Linked DNA regions of Homo sapiens. The protein of the gene in region 4 interacts with the protein of the main gene of each other region in a biochemical or structural test. Each region holds a gene or a part of one and is shown on either strand. Other genes may lie near its edges.

Region 1 (3,500 bases), on a different chromosome or scaffold from region 4:
AATGAATGCAAGCCCTCTAAAGTGCCTGCATGTCATTGGACAGAATGCATCCCTCCCCACCTGGCACTGATTGCATAAAGAGACAGAGGGTGCTGGGCTGTGAGGGCACTCAGAGGCTATCCACCTGCCCCATGCCACAGATGAGCAGCTGGGTGAGTGGTGTGGAGCGCCCAGACTGCAAGCAAGGTGATGATTCCAAACCTACTCCCACATGAATTCTGTGTGAAAAATGCACTTTTCGCTTGTAGATATTCTAGGGGTTCACCCTTTAAATGAACGATGGAATAAACGTGTTAGTCTAGATGAGTGCTGCTGACAACACTTTCTGCAGTGATGGGAATGGGCTGTATCTGTGCTGTCCAAGATGGAGGCCAACACTCCTGTGTGGCTGTCAAGCAATTCAAATGAGGCTCATGTGACTGAGGAACTGAATGCCTACATTTTTATTATTTTAATTAATTTAAATCTGAATAGACAACTGGGGCTGGTGGCTGCTGTACTGGACAGGGAAGGTTTAGATGCTGTACAATTCTGTGATGGGACTGCAAACCACCACAGGAAGCTCTGACGCAGCAGGTGTGAGTGGGCTTCCCAGAGCCCTCCAACGCTTCCCTAAACCGTTTTCTCCTTTTGCCAAAGCCGCAGAGCCCCCACTGCAGACTCAAAACGGCTCTAGTCACGCATGCCTGCACTCCTGCTTTGTATTTCTAGATGTGCTTGTGGTTTGAAAAGCTACAAAGTCACACAAAGGAACTCACAATCATCCACTGTAGCCCTGACAAAGGGGCAGCAGGCTGCAAGTTGGAACAAGAGATAGCAATCATTTAGCAAAAGCATCATCCAAGCTCAGGTCACAAGGAAAGAATGACCACAGGGATTATTTAACCAGAGGTGTTAAGAACACAGATAAACTGGAAACCATGTTTGCTGTGGGCAAGGACAGAGGAGAGGTAGCAGCCTCACATACAAATGGGAAGGAGATTTGCAATTCACCTGCAAATGCCTGGAGTCCAATCAGGGTGCATTTGATGCTTTCAGCCTAATAGCTACAGTGGTAAAAAATTTACAGATTAACTAACGTGCCTGCTTGCTAATCCTCAGCTGTTAGGGGGGCCATTATCTTACTATATTTTAGAAATAGTATGGGGCTTAACAGAATAGATACCCAATGACTATGGTTGATTTCCTAACAGTTGATCCTTTACTATCATGCTTTAACCTAATTTATAATCTATGTCTTACCTACTTAAAAAAATGATTTGCGAGTTTACCCCAAAACGTACAGATATGTAACTATGAATCCATTAAAATAAGAAAAAAAAGACCCATATAACAAAGGCAAATGAGGAAGAGAAGGTCCTATACAAGAAATCTGGGCTGAGGGAAGTGAATACAATTGAGCCTAATGTGCAGTTCTGAACTCCCTGGTAACCAAGGCAAAAAGGGAAACAAATGGGTTAAATATATCCTATTGAATAACAAAAGCACTCAACCATCTTTCAGGACAGACATTTTTTCTGTCCTTGAGCTATGAGGGAACTCTGTCACGTTAAAAAAGCGGGGTGGGGGAGGTAGGACATAAAAATTTAACAAAAAATTTCTCAAAGAAAATTAGAGATGTTCTAACGTTTGTTTCTTTATACTAACTATTAATTGAAAACAAAACCCCTCAGAACCCTGTTGTTCGGAGAAGGCTTTTAGAAGCAAGCATATTTCCAATGATTTGAAATCATGTGATGGTAAAACTTTAATAATCTAGAGAAATCAGAGTTAGCATGGCCCTAGAGTCTGTACCTCCAGAACAGGGAATGATTAAACTGGGCTTTGCTTGTGAGCTGGAGAGGAGACTAATTCAAGAGACTAACAAGTACTTAGTGACTAGGAAGTCTTTGTCGTGGACAAAAAGAAGTACAAGCTCTAGACCCCAGGCACATAGACCGTCTTCCGGGTGAAAAGGTAGAGTCTGATTTATGTTCTTATCCTGGCAGAAGGCACCTGTGGGAGCTGGCTGCAGGCACCAGCTCTTGGTTCCTCTCAAATGGCAACCTGGACCTGAGCAAATTCCGCAACAGCCAAAAAGCAAATACCCAGAAATAAAACAACACGAGTTTCTTACTCTTGGTGCGGGCTTCGGTTCTGAGAAACTTCAGAATCGCTGTCTTGAGGGGCCAGAGAGCCCTTGTACGTGTAAAATACATCTTCCGTTTCCGTGATGTAGGTCATTTCATTTGCAAGGTTATCTGCAGAAGAGTGGCGTGGCTTTCGGATTTCGTGCCGGAGCCGAGGACTTCGCCTGGGTGGGAAAAACGTTGAGTGCAAAGTGTTCAAAGCAAATTCCACTTAAAAATTTTATTAGACACCAGTGAACCTCGTGTCCTGACCTTTCTAAGGATGCCTTCCTTGGCGGAGGCTGACATTCAGAGCCGGTTAACTCATTACTACCCCAGCAGAAGGCACCAAGGGTGACACAAATCCCTAACACTCTCAGTCAAGTGGTGGCTCCCAAAACAGTAGCCTCAGCTGTATAAACAGGCAGAATTAGATGGGTTTATGCCCTTTGGGAAGTGACGGGTATTGACTTAAGGGTAAGTTATTCTTCCAGGAGGACTCAAGCTCTCAAAACATAAATAGGCCATATGGACTGCTATTCAGATAATTTTTCTGATTAATTTGAACAATGCAAACAAAAGGGTTAGAAGCCAAACTACATTTCTCAGCAAAACTCCAACCTTATTTCAACGACATCCCTTCATGTGAATTTCACTTGATCCAAGAGAAAATGTTTGCTTTTTAAGATATATCCCTTATTAAACACGTTTATATGCATTAGATGGGCATATAAACACTGGACTGTCCTCCAACAGTGGCAGTAGGCATGTGACCTTGGGCAAGGCACGTCACCTCTCTGGGCCTCGGCTGTACTTACCTGCTCCTGAGAATGAATCCAATGAGGCCGTGTTCTCAGGGCATCCAGTGTGGCACCTGGGCGTCAGCTCCTGCAGCGGGGGATCCCAAGCTGCCAAGCTTTCTAAGTTCTATTTTCCCTCACAGTTTTTCCATCTTCCCTTTCTTTGTTAGCCATTTCTCCTCAGGACTGTCAGGGCCTCCATGATTTGCAATCCCCCTGGGCCTGGATAATCAATAATGCTGTGTCCAAAGCAGAAGTAAAAAGGCTCTTGTGACTCCTCAGGAGAGGACCTATAAATAGCCACAGGAGCTCCGGGCCACGAGTGTGGCAACATCCAACCCCGCTGTTCCCCTGGATCCAGTCCTGGGCTCTCTGGGCCCCTGGCATTGCTGCCGATGAGATTTTCAGATAAATTAAGCTGCTGTGTTATAGCATAAATTTACCTCTTTAGAATGAGGTATCTAAATGTTGGAAACCAAGAAGCAAATCTATTCAGTTACGTCATGATTTCTAACACTAAATACTATCACTGTCCCTTCCCAGAGCATTAGGCCCCCAGTGAAGGGGTCCTTCCCTAGCAGGCCCAGCACAG
Region 2 (3,500 bases), on a different chromosome or scaffold from region 4:
CAGATTGGTGGGGGGTGGGACAAAGAAATACTCATTAAATAATGATGCTGTGGACCGGGCGCGGTGGCTCACGCCTGGAATCCCAGCACTTTGGGAGGCCGAGGCGGGCGGATCACGAGGTCAGGAGATCGAGACCATCCCGGCTAAAACGGTGAAACCCCGTCTCTACTAAAAATACAAAAAATTAGCCGGGCGTAGTGGCGGGCGCCTGTAGTCCCAGCTACTTGGGAGGCTGAGGCAGGAGAATGGCGTGAACCCGGGAGGCGGAGCTTGCAGTGAGCCGAGATCCCGCCACTGCACTCCAGCCTGGGCGACAGAGCGAGACTCCGTCTCAAAAAAAAAAAAAAAAAAAAATAATGATGCTGTGACATGTGGTTATCCATATGGAAAAATTGAGATTGAGGTTCTACCTTATATCATACAGAGAAATCAACTGTAGGTGATTAAATACTTAGATATAAAAAGTAAAACTATACAACTTTTAGAAGAAGATATAAGAGAAGACGTTTAAGACCATGTCTTGGAGAATGATTTCTCAAACAAGACACAGAAAGCAGAAACTATAAAAAAAAAAAAAAGGGTTAAGCCAATTACGCTAAAATTAAGACTTTCTCATTATCAAAGAGCATCATAAAGAAAGTGAAACTGCAAGCCATAAGCTGGCATAAGATATCTGTATCACATTAATTGATGAAAAAGATCACCAATAATATATAAGCATTTCTATAATCAACATGAAGAAATATTCAACAGAAAATGAGGAAAGACATGTACAGGCATTTTTTAGTTAAGAGAGAACATGAACGTCTAATAAATATAAGAAAAAATGATGAATATGAATTTGTAATCAAGAAATGCAAATCCAAATCTAAAATATATAATTTTCTACCTACCAGAATGAGAGTTTAAAAGTCTGACGTACAAATCTTGTGAGTGTGTGTAGTAAGAAAAACTTTTTTACATATGCTAATACAAGTATAACTTTGTAAAACCACCTTGGACAATACTTTTGTGTTACTTAGGTAAGTTAAATTTGTGCCCTCCAAGGCATCTAGTCTAGTCTAGAGAAAGTCTTGCATAGGTACAGCAGGAAAGATGTACAAAGATTGTATGAGTTACAACAAACTTGGAAACAACCAAAGTGTAAATTGACAGGGAAAATCTCAAATGTCCATAAAATGGAAAAATAGATAATTATTATAGGTTGTAGCATATTCACATAATGAAATAACTTATAGCAGTGAAAAATAAATGGACTATAGCTTCATGCACCAACCTTGGATGAATCTCATGAACATAACATATAGAAAGCAAACCACAGAGAAGAACATGTACAGTATGGTTCAGTTACATAAAGTTCACAAAGTGCACCAAGCTAAAGGTTATAGTTGAGAGATACACACATCTGTGGTAACAACAGAAGAAATGTCAAGTGCTTTATTTAGGAAGGTGGTTCCCTCTGAGGGCTGGAGAGTAGGAGGAGAATGAAATCATGGGAGCTTGGTAATGTTCTGTTTTTTAAGTGGGGCTATGGGTTCATGGGTCCTTGAATCATGGTTAGTATTTACACTTATTACATATGTTAGAAATATTCTTGTAAATCGTTTTATGTTTAATAAAAACAATATATAAACCAAGATGCTTTTGTATTGACTAGTTATATCTGGTCTATAGAAGGAAAGGTGACAAATTTAGAAGAAGCTAATTTCAGGGAATGTTGCTTTTCCTTTAAAAAAAAGATGGGCAAATGATATTTTTTTGTGCATTGATTGGTTGAACAAAATGTTTTAGTCATTCCAAAGCCCATTGCAGGCAGACTTTTGCATCATGTGAGTTTCAGAAAGTAGGTAAACCATCTTATAAATAAGCTTATGTGATGCTAAATAGGCATACACAAATGGTACCCAGCTGCAAGTGATGAAGTTATGAAATAATGTTCTTTTTCATCATAAAAATACATTTTATGGAAATGCGAACTATATTACACTTTTATGGAAACAGGAAAATATTTTACCATTTTAAGAGCAAACGATCTCCTTTCAGATTTCTCTTTTAACTTGACTCTCAGATTTTTATTTAAGCACTTAGAATTTCTATTCTTTCCCTCCAAATGTCTCCTGATTTCTTACATTCCCTGTTTTACTGAGCTTTGCCAATATTATTTTTTATGTTCATTATTTTTTGCCTGTGTTTTCTATTTAGTTTTGGCTTTTAATTAGGTTATATTCCTAGGAGCTTTGTATCAGAGATTTTATTCACTAGCTATGAAAATTTCATCCCTCCCAATTTTATTAGGCCATTTTACAAACGTAAGTCTTCTTTTTATAAACAGCTCCAGTAATATTTTCTAATAATTTATTATCCTTTTCCTTAAAATCTGAATGTCCATTGTGTTTCTCTTATGACACCAGCCTTCTTGACTGACTGAAGAAAAGCAAGCAGACGTGACAATGATATATCTCTTTTTATTATTCCCCTTATTTTCTGCATTCACAGATTGTGTTTTGTTTTATCTATTCAACTTTTAATACATCAGTATTAACTGATGTTGAAAAACCATCTAGTATAATAATTAAAGTCAAAACTTGCTACTCTCCACTGGTTTTTTGATAAAGTGAATATAGTAGCTCCCTCTCATACCTCTTGCATATATTCCAACATCTCCAGCGGATGCCTGAAATCACAGGCAGAACTAACCCTATATACACTGTTTTCCCTATATATATCTATGATAAAGTTTAATTTACAAATTAGACACAGCAAGGGATCAAAAACAATAAAAAAAGAACAATTATAACAAAATGCCAGCATCACTACTCTTGCACTTTGGGGCCATTACTAAGTAAAACAACGGTTACTTGAACACGGGCAGTGCGATACCATGATAGTCAATCTGATAATCGAGAGGGCTGCTGAGTAACCAGTGGGCAGGTAGCATCTACAGTGTGGATAAAGGGCTGTTTCACCTTCTGGGAAGGACAAAATTTCAGCACGATACTCACAACGCTGCACAATTTAAAATTTATAATTGTTTATTTCTGAAAAATTTTATGTAATATTTTTGGATTGCAGTTGACACAGGTATCTATAATAAAACCTCGGAAGGTAAAACCTCAGAGTTTCACCTGAAGAGCTTCCTAAAACATAGCCTGGTGACCCCACTCCTAGAGTTTCTGATTCAGCAGTTTTGGGTGGGGCTAGAGAATCTACATTTCTACCAAGTTTCCAGGTGATGCTGATGCCAGGAACCGTGCTGAGAACCATTGCTCTGGCTTAAATTCTGTAAGAAAGAGGAATCTTTTCCTGCAAGGGTATTTCTCTATTTAGGCTTCTTTGCCTTGGGAGTACTGTGTATATCCAGCAGCGAGTCATTTAGATCCCTTGTGAAAATACATGGCCACTGTTTGTAACCGACAGAGACCAGCCCTGTAGTCCACCGTGGGTCTCTATCTCTCACAGGGCTCTGGCCATTTTGCACATGGTCTTCCTACTGTGTTTCA
Region 3 (2,625 bases), on a different chromosome or scaffold from region 4:
GGCCCCCCAGCTTCCCAGCCCGGACACCGCCAGCTCCTGAACTTTCATGCCCTCAAAGCCCAGCCTCTGCCAGGGTCCCACCCCTGTTTACAGAGCTACCCGGCCTTGAAAGGGACACTGGGGACCCAGGCAGGGCGCCACAGGGTACAAAGCTTGACCTGTGACTGCTAGAGGTCGCAGGGTGAATTGGGCAAAGGGTGGCCCGTGTGGGTGTTGTGTGGGGCCGGATGGCTTCACAGGGAAGGTGAAGGTGGGAGGCTGAGTCTGCCAAATAAGAGAGATGGGCATGGGCCCAGGATGTGCCACACAGCAGGGGGTCCCATGGGGGTCAGCGGGGGAGATGGAGCAGGGCTGGGAGCAGATGGATGCAGGGCACGGGCTCAGGAACGAGACCGTTTCCAGCTGCTGAGACTCGGGGAGGGGGCTCCCTGAAACAGCCTCATCCCTCCACCCCTCTCACCCCACGGGGAGGAGGCTCAGAAAAGACAGAGGCGTGTGGGTCCCAGGCAGGGCCTGTTTATCCTGAGAGCGCGCATGCGCTATGGCTTACGAGGCAACAGCGGTGCCGGTCGATCGGTGGTCGGTTCGGGGGTGCGGGGCCCGGGAGGGAAGTGCAAAGTCAACAGGGTGTCCACGGGGGAGCCCGCCAAGCAGGGCTGAGCCAGAGGCCAGGCGTCCTTCCCGGGTGCCGCTCTCACACACCTACGTTCCCCAGGCCTGGGAGCTGCCGCGCGGAATGAGGGGCCTGTCCAGAGGCCGCCCTCCTCGGGGACGTGGGGCCTCCATCCTCAGGCCCCTCGGAGAGCCCAGGCCCCCAGCAGGGCACAGGCGCACAGGGTAGCTGGGTGGGGAGCAGGGTGTGGCCTAGGGACCCCCACACCAGGGCAGGTGGGCAGGGGCAGCTCCTACGGCCACATCAGGCCTCCCTGGCCTTACCCAAGGTCCCCACGAAGAGGCTGGGCGCCCCAACTTGGCCACTGGGAAGTCCCAGGGACTCCCACTCAGGACGGCCGCTGCTGAGGGGAGGGGGCGGGGAGGAAATGGTTTGCAGAGAAAGGTTTGTTTTATTGCAATTATTTAGAGCGCGTCCCAAGGGGGAGGGGAAGGGGGAGGGGAAGGGGGGGGGTCTCTGGTATTAAGTGGAAACATGTGTGGAGCTGGAGATCTTTTTGGAAAAAAAGCAAAAACACAAATTCCTTTCAGTCAGCAGGCCCCGGCAGAGCAGCAAAGGCCCTCGCCCCGCGGCTGCCGCGCGCTCGCTCGCTCTCTCTCTGTCTCTCTCTGTGTCTCTCTCTCTCTCTCTCTGTCTCTGTCTCTGACTCTCTCTCACATCTCTGGGTCTCTCTCCCCCTATCTTGCTGCCACAGGCCCCCAGTACCTGGTGGGCAGGGGCAGGATGGGGGCTCACCGGGGCTGGGGCTGATTTCTGGGCAATGGCAGGACCACCCTCCAGTCCACTGAGGCTGGGGGAGCTCGGGGCAGGCTGAGGCCCAAGGTCCGTGCGGGAGGGGTCCCAGGGTCCCGAGACAGGCAGGAAGGGGCTCAGAAGTTGCTGAAGATTTCACGCTTCCTGTTCCAGTCCATCTGTGGCGCGCGCTTGTTGACTCGCATGGCTCGAGCCTTCTCCTTGGCCTCGGCCGCCGTGGGGCTCAGGTGGAGGCCGCTCTCCTGGAAGGGATCTTGCTTCCAGGCACTGCCATCCTGGGGTGAGCACGGTGGGTGGGGTGTCTGGAGTGAGCCCTAGTCCCACACCCCAGACGGTGGCCCCTCCTAGGGAGCAACCAACAGAGGCTGCCTGCTGGGGCTGGGGCTCACGAGGACTTCCTGAACAGAGACCCCACTGCCCGGGCTGACATCTCCACAGACGCCTACCCCAAGGCCTCTAGCAACCCCACGTGTGAGCTCAGGAGTGGAGAACATCCATACCTCAGTGTCCTTGTCGGAACCAGGCAGGTCACTTCGGGACGAGCACGCAGAGCCACCATTGAGCTGGGAAACCAAGGGCAGATTGTGGTTTCACAGACACACACAACACCTGCACACGCACACATGTGCACAGAGGCACACCCCCCCCCAGTGTGTGCTCCTCCACTCGGCAGGGGGCCTCGGGCCTCTGGTGGACTCCAGATGCGGCGGGGCAGGCACCGGGCGCCTGGCAGTGACAGGCAGGTGGCCTGGCCGGCTCATGGTGCAGAGGGGGTTCAGGTGCAGGAATGGCCGGCGTGAGCAACGCCTGGGGTGAGGCCACCGCCAGCTCCCTGAGGAGGCAGAGACTGGAGGGCAACTCCTTACCAGGTGGTGCCCAGGAGAGGACAGAAGGCAGTGGCCCCGACCCCAGGGGCCCCACGTGGCTTGTGTGTGGCACGACCCAGGATGAGACCCACAGGGGCATTAAAGGGAGGTGACAGGGCTAAAATCGGGTGTCACTAGCACACCTCGAGGACGGATCTCCAGGGAGAAGGGGGCCTCTGTCGGGCCTGGGTACCCCCAGAGGCACCCTGTGTCTCATGGGCACCCCACCCTCTTACCTGGGCAGGGCTGGTTCCATTGGTGACGGGTGACGGCAGAGGACCTGTGGGGACAGCGTGTCAGTGGCTGCTCAGCCACCACACCGCACCCACCCTG
Region 4 (3,500 bases):
CCAAGACACCCACTGAAACCCTACTCCTTAATACCAAAGCTGTAAGAAATTATCTCCCTTGAGTACATAAAATTTCTGCTTTCCTATAATAACATAGACCTGAATACAGAATATTCCTCCATTGCAAAAAGGTATGGGAAATGGAACCACTAGAGAATTTACTCTTTATGAAGCATTGGCTGCTTTTCCATTCCTAGATCTGAGGATTTATTAAACCCCAGGGAGACAGAACCACGATAGTCCAATTCCGTCTCTGAAGACACTAGGCCTAAGGGGAGTAAGAGCCCATTATGGGCCGGGCACGGTGGCTCACGCCTATAATCTCAGCACTTTGGGAGGCTGAGGCAGGCAGATCATGAGGTCAGAAGTTTGAGACCAACCTGGCCAACATGGTGAAACCCTATCCCTACTAAAAATAGCAAAATCAGCCCAGCGTGGTGGTGCGTGCCTGTAATCCTAGTTACTCGGGAGGCTGAGGCAGGAGAATAACTTGAACCTGGGAGGCGAAGGTTGCAGTGAGCCAAGATCACGCCATTGCAATCCAGCCTGGGCAATAGAATGAGACTCCCTCTCAAAAAAAGAAAAAAAAAAAAAAAGAAAGAAAGAAAAGCCCATTATGGAACCAGGCTTTGAATGAACCATAAGATTTATTCCCTAATACTAGAGAGGTGGTTATTAAAGTTTGTCCACATTTTGAAATTATATCAACATGATGTCAAAATGATATTGCCCCAGAAGTCCAAAACAATACCTCTTAGAATCATTTTTTGTTTTTATTCACTCACTAGAGACTATTTCAAAGGCATTAGCATACTAATCATACTCTTAGGATTTTGAATTTTGCTCTTCAAATTTTGAGATATTCTTGAATTATTAACCAGCTATTTTTAAAGATCATTGAGTATTTTGAAGTTTAACTTCAAAAGAGTATCTTTCAGAATACCTTTATAATACCTTTACTTTTATAAAAAACTGGCCTTGATGTGTCTACATGGAATTATGTTCCTTAAATAAATTCACAGCATATGAGGAGATGCATAGCATTTGTCTGGGAACACTGTTTTAGTTTAAAGGCAAAATGTTCAAAACAATTTTGTAAAGGAAAACAAAGTGGGTGGAATTTCTAGCATGTTATCTCTATTAACTCAGAGAATCTTCAAAAGAAAGGATATAAGAGGGACATGGTAATTGTTATGCCATTATACAGACGAGGAGGCTGAGGCATAAAGAGATAGCTTATCTAGTAGAAAGCTACAGAGCCAGGATTTAAACCTAGTTTCTGGCCAAAAACCCATTATCCTATAACATCTCTCAATTTGAATTTATAATTAATACATGGGGAAATAGGTCATCTATGTGTACATTTTAATAAATGTAGTGTTGAGGCAAAATTGTCAAATATGCAAGTCACATATTTTTTAATAATTAAGGGTTTACTAAAACTTTATACTTGTTTTAGAATGGTGAAAATCTTTGAAGAGGAGACATTGTGGAAATCACTGTTATTTTCCTTTTCCTTTCTTTTGGAAAAAAATGTAGTTTTTACTGGGTGTTTTTAAATTGAGTCTTGTGAAGAGTTTATAAATACTTGAAGAAAGCATCCCATTATCTGTGTCAGAAAACAAAGAGTGGTACTTGTAAAAGTTATTGGAAACCCCATTATCAAATTCCTGGTATGTGAGACTAGCTAGGAAAATACACTACCAAAATTATATTATAATAAGTTCTAATTGTCAGAGAAATGTTGAAGAAAAACATATCAGAAGTAATTTCACCTGACATTTATAGGAAGGACAACTACCATCAACCTTTTTTAGGTGGTCAGTCAGGGCACATATCTAGGGAAATAAAATAAGGATAGTGATATCTAGCCAATTTGTTTGTGCTAATATGTATTTGTATCAACATATATAAAATTAATATGGCATCATACTCCAGTGTTTCTCTAGGTTTGGTCCAAGAACCACCTACATCAAAGTCATTGGTGAACTTATTATTTATAAAATGTGTGCTCCTAGACCCGATCTCAAGCTTTCTGGGGGTTGGAGCCAGAAGCTGTATTTCAACAAGCTTGCCTGGGGATCCTTATTTTCATTAAGGTATGTCATAAGGAAACTCATATACTCCACAATATCTGACAGCTGCAAGGCCAGCCACTGATAACTACTACTGTTGGGGATGCAAGAATCATTTTTAATCAGTTCCTGTGATTTTCACTGATATTGATTATAATTTTCACGTATCTTATGTGTTTGTGTGTGTGTTATATGGAGACTTTTCTAGGAAAATATTAATTAGATTTTCAAAGGCTCTGTGATACACAAAAAACTAAGGGATTTCTGTATTCCCCTCTCTCATACATCCCAGGTTAGGGACAAGAAAACCTTCAGATACTAGATAAAGCATTTAATTAGTTTATTTTGCTTTCTCCCAAAGCAAAATATTTTCATTGCTTCTTTGAAAATTTTGGAAAGGCCACCTGCACCTAGTCATTTCTCTTTCTGCATGGCCAGAGAAGGCTCTGAAGGGCTGACTTTCTCTTCTGCCAAGGAGCATATGTGGCAAGCACTTCTCGGATACTGAAGAGAAATTGGCTTATGTCCCTATATATCATATATAATTTATGTGTATCTTTTTATGTGTCATTTATGCCTGTTTTGTCCAGAACCTTGAATAGGCAGAGTGCGTTTAATTTTTGTATATCTTCTGGGTAATGGTTTCAAATAAACTGAGGTTAGCAAATGGTCAAATTGTCTCTCAACATTTCTCTTATGGAGAGGAGGTATGTGAGAGCTCATTTCTCTATACCTGTGATAGCAACTTCAATGTTTTGCCTCCCAATATCTCCTTAGAGGTCATGATCAGGTAAAGTATGGGAGTTGGTAATTTTGAATATCAGTTCAGCGTTACTTTCCTTGTACTGTGGTCAAAAAACGAATGCTTACATGCAATGGCAAATTAAAAGGCATCAGTGAAATGTGAATACCTGTGGAATGTCTGCCCAGCTTTAGCATGCGCAGAGCCCTGAGCAGCCTCAACACCTGGACAATGCGCCCCACGTTCTCCAGCTCCTGCGTGGTCTGGCTCCCACTTAGGCTCTCTACCAGAAGAGTGATGTAGAAGGGCAAGATGGCAAGGAGGTCTATGATGTTTGGCACCTTTCTTAGGAAGCGACACCTGTCCCGCACACACAGGAAGCGGAGGACAAACTCCCCGGTGAACCAGCTAATGCACACATACTCCAGGATTTCCAGCAGCTGCAGGTCCAGCCAGCTTAACTCAGCTGACATCAGGGCCATGTTAATGATGGACACCACCACGAAGATAATGGAGATGACGCCAAAGATACGGGCAGCTGTGGAAGATCCAGGTTTCTCCAGGATATTCCAGAGCTTCTGGCGAACAGTGGGACAAGGTCCTTGGGAGAAGTCCTGTTCACTCTCATGTTGACTTTCCTGGTCTTCTGTGTCCTTCTTGAAGTCTAAAGTTTCACTCAGCTC
Region 5 (3,500 bases), on a different chromosome or scaffold from region 4:
ACAGCAAAGAGATCGAATCAACCTAAATGCCCATCAATGGTAGACTGGACAAAGAAAATGTGGTGCATATACACCATGGAATACTTTGCAGCCATGAAAAAGAACAAGATCATGTCATTCGCAGGAACGTGGATGCAGCTGGAGGCCATTATCCTTAGCAAACTAACAAAGGAAGAGAAAACCAAATACCACATGTTCTCACTTATAAGTGGGAGCTAAATAATAACACATAGACACACAGAGGAGAACAGACACTGGGGCCTACTTAGGGTGGAGGTTGAGAGGAAAGAATCAGGAAAAATAACTAATGGGTACTAGGCTTAATACCTGGGTGACGAAAAAATCTGTAGAACAAACCCACATGACACTGTTTACCTATATAACAAACCTATACATGTACCCCTGAACCTAAAATAATAGTTAAATGAAAGAAAATAAGAAATAAAATATATGTTCTTTGACTCAGAAGAGCTCAAAGTGAAGTAGAAGGAGGAGACATAAGTGAGAAAGCATATAGAAAAAAAAAGTTATTTATAATGATTCAGGGCTTGGAATTTTAAGTCACACAGACCTGGATCGAAATCTTCACTTAAAGAGTTGTATAATGCAGAAGTCAAGGTTTCCTCATTTCTGAAATGGGGATAATAACCATTTCATCTCTTCCTTTTTACAAGGGGACAAGATACAGTGCTTAGCTTGGCAATACATGGGAATACATTACAGGCAATCTGTAAATGATGTATAATATAGACAATAAGAGAACATCTATCCTAGGTAAAGCCTGCTTCCTGGAGGAGCTAACTGTTGAACTGAGTCCTAATCAATGGCTAGGAAGTAGAAAGAATCCAGATAGAACTTTAGAGAAAGATTAAGTTTCCATACTAACACTAAAGACTCCATAATCTGATCTCCACCTACTCAGGTTACTACTCAGCTACCTCTTCTCTCTTGAATCTCCTAAAGGAAACTTTCCTTCTGTCCAGGCTGGTTTACTCACTAACCTCAGAATATGCTCTGCTTATTTTCTTCTCTCTATTATTGCTTAGGCCATACTCATCCCTGACTCTGGCCCTAGCCTAAAGCCTGTCCATTCCAGAAGACCCACAAGTTCCACGTTCTTTTAATTGACCATTTTAATGGTTCTCAGCAGTGTCTGCATTCTTGAACTTTCCCAACACAGGGTCAGATTACCATGCTCCTTTCCGCACTTCCTTTGCCCTCCCACTAACTACCTCCTCATCATTTTCCTTAACTATCTGCACCTTTGCAGTGAGATTTAATTTTTCATATGTGAACATCATATCTCTATTGGATTGTAAACTCCATGAAGGCGAGACTTTGTGTAAGCAAGAGAAAATAGGGCAAGGATATAGCATTTAGCCTCACATCTATTTGATATGTGAAGAAAGGAATAGATCAGAAAACTGCTAGCAACAGTTTCAGTTAGCATGAAACCCAAAGCCTATGACAGGTCTACAAGGCTTAAATGATAGAACTTAATGGGGCATCTTGATTTTAGGTACTCACCTTGATATGCCCTCAGCTCTATCAAGAGCAAGCAATAAAAACTTTCCACTGTAGGTTGTATTAGTCATTTAAGATGCCTCAAATGCTTCTGGGAATAAGGCATGATATAATAAAATAAAGGTCAGGGGAAAGGTTGGCAGTCAACTTCTTAAACATGGCTACTGCAGTGGAAAGTAGTATATGGTATAGCAGAATTAACACACCTGGGTTAAAAATCCTTTGAAATTTACTGGCATTAGAAACTGGGCAAGTCCTTAACCTCCCCAAGGCAATTTCCCAATCTAATAATGTGGATTAAATATTTATTACTCAGGGTTGCTGTGAAGATTAAATGAGTATGTATGTATGTATAGTATATATACAGTATATATATGTATGTATAGTATATATACAGTATATATACAGTATATATGTATGTATAGTATATATACAGTATATATATGTATGTATAGTATATATACAGTATATATATGTATGTATAGTATATATACAGTATATATATGTATATATAGTAACTAGCACACTACCGGAAAGACAATACCTCCTTTAGTATTCATTATTAAAACACTGCCATCAACCCATCATCTTTTCCAAGGCCTTTAAAGAAAGTAAGAAAATAAATATTCTCTTCCCTCTTTAAAGATGGCATATCAGGAGTAACTTGCTGAAACCCATTGAGGACTCGGACCTAAAAACAAGATTCCTAATCATAGTACTCAATGTACAGTAAGGTTGTCTTTATGGCCAATCTCTTACCTGTTGCAGTGCAAAAAAACATATTAAACAGTCTTGTCACACTTTTTAGAGTAACTGAGTTTTGAGACGCATTAAGAGACTTTCAATTTGATAAAGAAAAAGTGAGAGCCTTAGATACTATAATCAAGCTGGACTCCTGTAGAAAAAAACAAGATTCCACTAAAGATAAAAGGTAAACTGTTCAACCCTTGAAGACATTTGAGATTGTAGCCACTGCCTTTGTAATTCTTCAGCTCATACTATTAGTCTAAAATGGCAGGAAATAAAAACAAAACGAAGTTCCAAATGGTAGGAAACATAAAATAACATAAATAATCATAAAATGAGCCAAAGAATGAACTCTTAGAGATGGAAGAGACCTCTGAAGTCATCTAGCCCAAGTCCCTTCTTACAGTTGAGAAAGCAGACAACAGGAGAGATTCCATGCTATTAGGTTGGTGCAAAAGTAATTGCGGTTCTGCCATTGAAAGTAGTGGTACTTATGGCTGGGCGGGGTGGCTCACGCCTGTAATCCCAAAACTTTGGGAGGCCAAGGCAGGTGGATCACTTGAGGTCAGGAGTTTAAGACCAGCCTGGTCAACGTGGTGAAACCCTGTCTCTACTAAAAATACAAAAATTACCCGGGCATGGTGGCAAATGCCTGTAATCCCAGCTACACAGGAGGCTGAGGCAGGTGAATTGCTTGAACCTGGGAGGCAGAGGTTGCAGTGAGACAAGATCGTGCCACTGCACTCCACCCTGGTGACAGAGTGAGACGCGTCTCAAAAAAAAGAAGAACAAAAGAAAGTAATTGTACTTTTGCACCAACCTAATACATGTCAAGCTTCTTTTGCCTCTTCACTCTGTTGTCATAATTTCCCCAAGATTTCATTACTTCCCTTGCAGTAAGCAGATCAGTCAGGAACAGGTTCGACTGCCTTATAATATGGGCCCAAACACTGGAAATATCCACAATTCTTGTCCCTGACAGAACACAAAGGGGGAATGGTACACATGTTCTCGGATCTGATTAAACATCAGGTTCCTGAGTACACAGCTATACAAACACAAAGAGTGGGCAATGCTGCCTACAAAAGAAATGCATACTTAGAGGATTTTCATATTTCTTCCATAGATAGAAAGATCCTTATGGGACCATCAAAATTATGTGGAAGTTTCTAGTGGTGATTAGTTTCTAGTGGTATTTTGAGACAGTCTCCTCCCTATATATCTTCATG
Region 6 (3,500 bases), on a different chromosome or scaffold from region 4:
TAACTTTTGAATCTCTGGGAACTTCCATCTCCTGGGAAGGCTCTCCTGTGTGTAAAGTGCTCCACGGAGGGCCTAGCACTTATTCGGTGGTCATATCAGTTTTAATTATTTATCATTCAATGTTTCTTTTAATTTGAAAGAGCAAGTTTTAATTCCCCATACTCTGCTATTGTAAATGAAACCTGCACAGATCAAGGCTGGAACATATGTCAGGCCTTGGGAAGTCAAATGTCTTGACGTGACCCCGGTTGTGTTTTCCATTCAATTCTGTTTCCTTTTCCTTCCCTATGATCCCTGCATTAATGAACGTCGTGGGCCTGCAGTATAGATGCCAGGGTGGGCATCTAACCAACCTTAAATGGCTAACTCATAAAGTGAATTCTGAATCACAGCAAGTTTGATTACATTTCCAGGGAACAAAGCACCTTCAAGTTCGCAGCCAATACTCAGGTGCTCTTTTGCAGGCCTGGGGATCTTTTGATTTTAGAAATATAGACCCAGTTTCATCTGTAGGAAGCCAATTTACCTGGAGTTCAGGCCTTGCAATCAGCAATGAAAAGTTTTTATTTTCTTCACTGGTTAGAAGAGCCACAGCCTCTTCACGGTTCTGCACCTCTATCCCATTAATCTTTTAAAAAAAAAGGGGGGGTGGGGAGAGTGGGGAGACAAATAGCATGATTAGATGGTGCAAAATCATTCTATTTTATTTCAGACCTGCATTTGTCACCCACTCACAGTTAGAACATACAACTTCCGTGTAGCTGGAAAAGAATACTGATGTTAGGAAGGAAAGGTCTTGCTCAGACCAATGCAGTTTCTCTGGTCTATAAGGGAGCCTCCATGAGTATAGTTCATGAGGTGACTGTGATGTGTGGGGTGTGAACAGAAGGGGCTGGACCTCCAGAAGACGGCACTGAGAAAAATCATAATGCTCTGCAGAGGGAACATGGAAGCAATTAGACATAATATTCAGGCAGGAGTATATGTAGACATTATTGGATAATATAGAAGAAAAAGCAGCAAACTGAGGTTAAGAAAATGGAATAGAATTATACATGGTGTTTTGTGTCCCCAGTTTGACACTTAAACTTCTTTGGGCCAGGCGGAGGGTCAAGTGGGCGTGACACTCTCACTATCACACTTGATTAACCCTCTTGCAGGATTTTTGCTTGCATGTCCTGGTGACTTTGAGCCCTGCTGGTCTGGAGGTCTTAGTCCTGGTGGAACGCCGCCTCCAGGGGACACAGCAATGGTTCCACTGAATTGGAAGTGGAGGCTTCCATATGCCTCCTTACACTAGTGAGCCAACAGGCAGCAAAAGGGGTGACTCTATTGGTTGGAGTGATTGCCCTCAATTACCAAGGAAGATGGGCTTGCTGTGACACAGTGGAGGCAGGGAGGATTGTGTCTGGAACCTAGGGGATTCCTTGGAGTACCTCTGAGTGCTTCCATTCTCAGTAGTAAAGGTTAATGGAAAACTCCAGCAATCAAAAAAAAAAAAAAAAAAAAAAAAAAGAGGCAGTATGCTGAGGACCCTGACCCTTCAGGTGTGAAGGTTTGGGTCACTTCCCTAGGGCAAGCGATCCTGAGCAGCACAGGTTCTGGCTGAAGGCTAGAGAAACCCAGAGTAGGCAGTGGAAGAAGAAAATCAAAATGACCTGTGGTGAGGTATGCAATGAGAAAAACACAGTGGATTAAGAATGAGAGGATACGGATGAGAAGAGGTAGAAAGCTAAGCCTTGTGGACACAATGAAGCCAAGAATTTCAATTCTGTGAGATTAAAGAAGGTTGTAGCCAAAAGAGACATGAATGGTCTCATTTGGACTAGACGGAGCAACAGGGCTCGAGGTCAAGTAATGACCCTTAGAAGCGATTCCAGGATGGTTAGATGTTGAGTCAGAAAATTTCTAAGACTTTTCAATCGATGCTGCTAAATTTGCCAAAAATGTTCCCCTTTTATGGACGAGCCTCTGAAATGCTTGGTCCAAAGTTAATCTTTCAGAGAAATCTAAAACGAGAATTATTTTAGTTCACAAGTTGTAAACTGTTGGCCTGACTTTGGCTCACTGATGTTTGTTTTGATCCAAACAGAATGAAACAAAATAAGGAGAACTGGCTCAAATTTTGCAAGGCCCTCTTTGGAGAGAACATGCCCCATCTAGTTTGTCCCAGTCCTCACCACTCCCTCTTGCGTCTTATGACTCAGAGATAGCCTCACAATTAGTTTAACTTGTCTGGCCTCACTACACATCTGCGTTTGTGATCCCTGTTCTTTAACCGCTTCTGCATTTTCAACCCTAGACCTATCATTAGAACCAGTTTGTTCTTTAGTGATAGGCCCATCATGAGGCCATTGTTTGGAAGTGGACTTACCTGGATAATGCGGTCTCCTTCTCGGATGCGCCCATCCTTGGCTGCAATGCTGTTAGGGTCAATCTGAAACACACATGGACCATCTCAGCGCAAACGCAGACATGCATGAAAATAAGCAACAGCACTTTCAAAACCATTTCTAAAACACAGTCATGCTCACCCCTGTGTTTCTGTTTTGCACAGAAATAAACAAGACTTAGTGTCGTGCAAGGAGAGGCAAACATGAGCTGATCTGCTTCTAAGCCCTTTCTAGGGCTGGTTCTTGGATCCCTGTGTAGCAACCCTGTTACACAGCAGTGTGTGCAGGCTCTGCTGATCTGAGGAGGCACAGCTGACTTTTGTTGCATGCATGGTAATTAAAATCAAATCAATGATGTAGAACAGGTTAAAGGATACCCTTCATTATGTGGACTAGCAACTATACCTTATTTTATACCAAATACTTGTATTAAAATTTGGAAAATAACTTTAAAATTGAAATATAATTGGGACAAGGGGGACTGGTAAGGGGAGGGATGTCCCCAAATGCAGAAAGGATGGGTTAACTTAAGCTTGGTGAATGACATACAACCAAAGAGATAATTATTAAGTCTAGTAGATCATTCTGTAGCGACAAATTTTATTTCCTGACAAAATTGGGTTTCTGTGTTTGCAAGGATGGGTGTGCACTGTAAAGTTTCCATACTGAAATCAGTTGATTTGTATTATCTTCTCAAGGAAGATCAAAACAGCGTGCATCTATGTAGTTTGATAAGTACATACAAGTCACATTTAACTTATATGAAGTCAACTATATATACTCCACCAAGAGAAAAAAAAATGTGTGTGTGTGTGTGTGTGAGAGAGAGAGAGAGAGAGGCTTTAAAAAGTGTAAGTGATTCCATCCACCATTCCACTCAATGAACACGAGTTGGGAAATGTGAATCTGCTCTTCCCTTGGGGCTAAACACACAAAACCATGTAAACGGCTCCATTTTATGGCTGATTTGCAGGCTTCTCAAGGGTAATTTTGCCATAAGTACTGGCATTAGAACTTAACCTCCGTGGAAAGATGCAGCGCCATGGAGTGTGATGAGGGGGACAGAATAATTTGTGTCTTTCCAAAGAGATCTTGATGAGGTGGGTT
Region 7 (3,500 bases), on a different chromosome or scaffold from region 4:
GAAACCCTGTCTCTACTAAAAAAAAAAAAAAAACAAAAAAATTAGCCGGGCGTGGTGGTGGGCGCCTGTAATCCCAGCCACTAGGGAGGCTGAGGCAGAGAATTGCTTGAACCCGGGAGGCTGAGGTTGCAGTGAGCTGAGATCGCGCCACTGCACTCCAGCCTGGGTGACAGAGTGAGACTCATCTCAAAAAAAAGACCCAGCAAATAATAGGTGCTCACTAAAATTGGTTGGATGCCTGAATGACTATTCCATTGTTTCGGAAGGTAAGTGCAACTAGGCCACTTGCAACATCTTTCCTCCCTTTCTCTCGATTTGTCTTTTACTTCTTGTTTAGGATCCAGAGGTCTTCACTTTCTCGTAATCAGATCTTCCAATTAGCAGGCTTTCTGTGTCTAATAATTTATACTGGGCTATAAATGACTGACAAGGATTAATGAATCCTATTCAAGTATTTCTGCCTGTTGACTCTAACTGAAGTTTAACAAGTGAGCCTCTAAACGTGAAATTTCAGATGTTCAGCAGGCAGGATGATGAGGATTTTTTTTGTTGATGTGGGACCTGTGTCCTCATGCCTAAAAATGATTCTTTCCCTCCGTTTTCTTGCAGCATTGTCCCTGTGTACTTTTTTTTTTGGCTAATAGCAAATCAGATCTTTGCTACAGAACACAATCCAATTTTAGCCCTCTCGCTCTTAAATTGTACTTTGTATTTATGTCTTTTTTTTTTTAACTTAAACTTTCAAAAATCAACCTGTTTTTGTTCTTGGTGCCAAAAGACCACTCTTGGAAGGATATTTTTAGGTTACACTGTGGAACACTGTACAGGTTTTACAAAAAATGAAGCAAGGACGTACAACGCACTTGTCCATCGTTTCCAGTGGCCACCCCTTGTCATTGGCTGTGTTATTTAAAAATAGATTAACTTGACCTTCTGTGGCAATGGCATACAGTTGGCTCACCGTGTTTCTTGGCATTCATTACCCAGCTGGTTTTAGATGGCAGAATTGATGATATCCACCAAGGGGAATTAAGTGGTTTATAAGAGAAAACATTCTGACATCTCCTTACCACAAGGGTTTACATGAAGGATGTTGCTTTGTAAACGAGGGTTATTTAATGCAAAGCACCACTCTCTGGTGTTAGTGGCCCTTTCCTTGAGTTTGTATATACAAGTAACAGGATATACTGATTTTGTATACACTGAGAATAAAGGCTGTCAAATTCGTTAAGGGCTGACATTCACATCCTAAAAAAGTAGGTTACTGCATGCCTGCCTGTCTTTTTGCAGCTCATATGTGAGATCTGTAACCTTGAAAAATCCCTAGTACACACTGGTGCATTGCTAGACTTCTCCCCTATGGAGGTCGGCATCGATGTAGTATTTCTTATGAATTCATTTTGTTGTTTCAACAGATGTCAAGGTTGGTCCTATCATATTGACTCTGCTTTCTAGTTAAGTGTCCTGTGGAGGGTCTAATGTGTTCTGGATGTCAACTTTTCCGAAGGCATGTAGCAAAATTAGAAAATGTAATTTGAGCAGTGTCTTTTATGATTAAATAGAAATCTTCTCTTTTTATGGCTCAGTAATTACATAATGGAATAATCCATTATTAATCATTTCTGTAGTCTCTGTATCTGAGTGAAAGCCGAAGTCCTTATAGTGACTTCCAAGGCTGCCCGTGACCTGTCCTAAGGATATTACTTCTCTTTCTCTGTCCTGCCTGCTAGTGCCCACCTGATCATCTTACAGGCTTGCTATCTCTTGAGCTTCAAGTCTTTCTGAAATGTCACCTGCCCAGTGAGGCCTCTTGTGAGCACATTATTGAAAACCATAACTCCACTGCCACGTGTCATTCCCTGTTCCCCCTCTCAGCTTTATTTTACTCCATAGTATGTAGATCGCTTCACCACAAGTAAATTTCTTATTTTACCTCTTTCTCTAGAATGTAAGCTCTGAGATGGCAGGAATGTTGTCTTGTTCTCCCACAGTATCCCCAGTAGCAAAAACAGTGCATGGTGCCTAGTACTTGCTTGGGTATTTGTTAAATGTTTACAGTCAAGTTTAGAACTAGAATAAATCTCTTCTGAGGTCAGTTACCTCTGAAAATGTAGATATATAGAAGTCCCTGAAAATTTAGGTGACTGATGATGGATCACATTAAAGTTGGTTAGAGTTTAACATTTACAGTCAATGGCTGGGGCTAAAATAGAGCTTAGCCGATTGATCCAGGAATATTCTTAAAGTCAGTGAACATTGCTGGCCTGCTTCAGTTGGTCTTAGTATTATGGGTTTACAAGTAAGAACATGTGGGTCCTTGGTTTCTTGTCAAGAAGGGGAGGGAAGAGTCCACTGGAGTCTCCTTGGAGTCAGAGATAAGGTCACATTTCCAATTTTAGGTTTCCCTGCATGGAAGAGGTCCTTGACTTTAAAATTAATTGAGTGTCCTGATTTTCAGAGGTTACTTTGATTTGGGAAATGACGGTAACAAGGGGTACCAGGTGGCTGATCCAAACAGGAGAGCTGAGGCTACTAGAGTCACCATGAAGATCTTGTCGAGTTAGGGATAGGTCTGTGCACAGCATCCCTTACTTAGCCAAGTCATTGGCCTCAGTCCACTTTCAGTCCTGTGTGCTCCCCACCAACATGAATCCCTAGAAGGCAACTCTAGGTCAGGATTTGAATGCACAGGGCTTATCTGGGAGGTGCTCCCAGGAAGTTCCAGTAGGGCAAGGAAGAGGTGAGACCAGTGAGTCAAGAAGGCCAATGGAGATGCTTTAAAGAGCAAGTCACCACTGTGTGTCTAAGGCAGCCCCATGCTGAGTGTGTCATGGAACTTTGCAGACTCTCTCACCCCTAAACAGACTGAGAGGTTCTTCTGGCTGTGTGTATAGACTTTTTCTGTTACCATCTCCAGTGTCATGAAGATGAGTTCCATAAGATAATTACATTCTCATGGCTAAGGTATCAACCCCACCATTACTGTGGATGGAGGCATTTGTGTGTCTGTTTAATGGGCCACAGTTATGCTTCTTACAATAAGGATAATCTTTACTCCTTTATGAGACAAGACTCGAGGCTCTCTTTATGGACAGGGGCATGATGGTGCAATTAAAAGGCGATCGTGCCCTGATTATAAGCCATGTTTCAAAATTACTGCTATATATAGTGTCATCAGGACCGTAGTACTGCTCATAAAATGATCCACAAATAGCAATTTACTGATGTGTCATAGAGTCAGATTTTGGACCCAAGGTTGGCTTGGGTGAAGAGGCAGGCTTTACACTTTATGAGCTGGGTGTTCTGGGGCAAGATGCTGAACCTCTTTGTGCCAGGTTTCCCCCTCGGAAAATGGGGATAATAATGATACCTACTCTCTAGGGTTGTTGGAAAAGTAGAAAGTAAACCACATGACACAGGGCTTGGCACATAGTGAGTGCTCAATAAATGTTGGCTTCTGTAATTGTTTGAATGCTCCCCATTTGAAAGCCCTTGGGAGA

Evidence for each region.
Region 1: the proteins of KCNV1 (region 4) and PTPN3 interact in a test that uses a peptide from one of them, tested with the Homo sapiens proteins (one large-scale study listed by IntAct).
Region 2: the proteins of KCNV1 (region 4) and MAGI2 interact in a test that uses a peptide from one of them, tested with the Homo sapiens proteins (one large-scale study listed by IntAct).
Region 3: the proteins of KCNV1 (region 4) and NHERF2 interact in a test that uses a peptide from one of them, tested with the Homo sapiens proteins (one large-scale study listed by IntAct).
Region 5: the proteins of KCNV1 (region 4) and SYNJ2BP interact in a test that uses a peptide from one of them, tested with the Homo sapiens proteins (one large-scale study listed by IntAct).
Region 6: the proteins of KCNV1 (region 4) and PDZRN3 interact in a test that uses a peptide from one of them, tested with the Homo sapiens proteins (one large-scale study listed by IntAct).
Region 7: the proteins of KCNV1 (region 4) and MAGI1 interact in a test that uses a peptide from one of them, tested with the Homo sapiens proteins (one large-scale study listed by IntAct).

Annotation. Positions count from the first base shown.
Region 1 is NC_000009.12:109,418,308-109,421,807, forward strand, and holds part of PTPN3 (tyrosine-protein phosphatase non-receptor type 3), read right to left. Parts: intron 3,179-3,500; exon of another isoform or gene 2,927-3,178; intron 2,294-2,926; coding exon 2,117-2,293; intron 1-2,116.
Region 2 is NC_000007.14:78,120,668-78,124,167, forward strand, and holds part of MAGI2 (membrane-associated guanylate kinase, WW and PDZ domain-containing protein 2), read right to left. Parts: intron 1-3,500. UniProt on the Homo sapiens protein: Seems to act as a scaffold molecule at synaptic junctions by assembling neurotransmitter receptors and cell adhesion proteins. Plays a role in nerve growth factor (NGF)-induced recruitment of RAPGEF2 to late endosomes and neurite outgrowth.
Region 3 is NC_000016.10:2,036,902-2,039,526, reverse strand, and holds the end of NHERF2 (Na(+)/H(+) exchange regulatory cofactor NHE-RF2), read right to left. Parts: intron 2,573-2,625; coding exon 2,529-2,572; intron 1,990-2,528; coding exon 1,927-1,989; intron 1,771-1,926; coding exon of another isoform or gene 1,741-1,770; exon of another isoform or gene 1,702-1,740; coding exon 1,543-1,701; 3' UTR 501-1,542; downstream 1-500.
Region 4 is NC_000008.11:109,969,272-109,972,771, forward strand, and holds part of KCNV1 (potassium voltage-gated channel subfamily V member 1), read right to left. Parts: coding exon 2,987-3,500; intron 1-2,986. UniProt on the Homo sapiens protein: Potassium channel subunit that does not form functional channels by itself. Modulates KCNB1 and KCNB2 channel activity by shifting the threshold for inactivation to more negative values and by slowing the rate of inactivation.
Region 5 is NC_000014.9:70,410,591-70,414,090, forward strand, and holds part of SYNJ2BP (synaptojanin-2-binding protein), read right to left. Parts: intron 1-3,500. UniProt on the Homo sapiens protein: Regulates endocytosis of activin type 2 receptor kinases through the Ral/RALBP1-dependent pathway and may be involved in suppression of activin-induced signal transduction.
Region 6 is NC_000003.12:73,387,442-73,390,941, forward strand, and holds part of PDZRN3 (E3 ubiquitin-protein ligase PDZRN3), read right to left. Parts: intron 2,438-3,500; coding exon 2,375-2,437; intron 629-2,374; coding exon 527-628; intron 1-526. UniProt on the Homo sapiens protein: E3 ubiquitin-protein ligase. Plays an important role in regulating the surface level of MUSK on myotubes. Mediates the ubiquitination of MUSK, promoting its endocytosis and lysosomal degradation. Might contribute to terminal myogenic differentiation.
Region 7 is NC_000003.12:66,028,919-66,032,418, reverse strand, and holds part of MAGI1 (membrane-associated guanylate kinase, WW and PDZ domain-containing protein 1), read left to right. Parts: intron 1-3,500. UniProt on the Homo sapiens protein: Plays a role in coupling actin fibers to cell junctions in endothelial cells, via its interaction with AMOTL2 and CDH5. May regulate acid-induced ASIC3 currents by modulating its expression at the cell surface.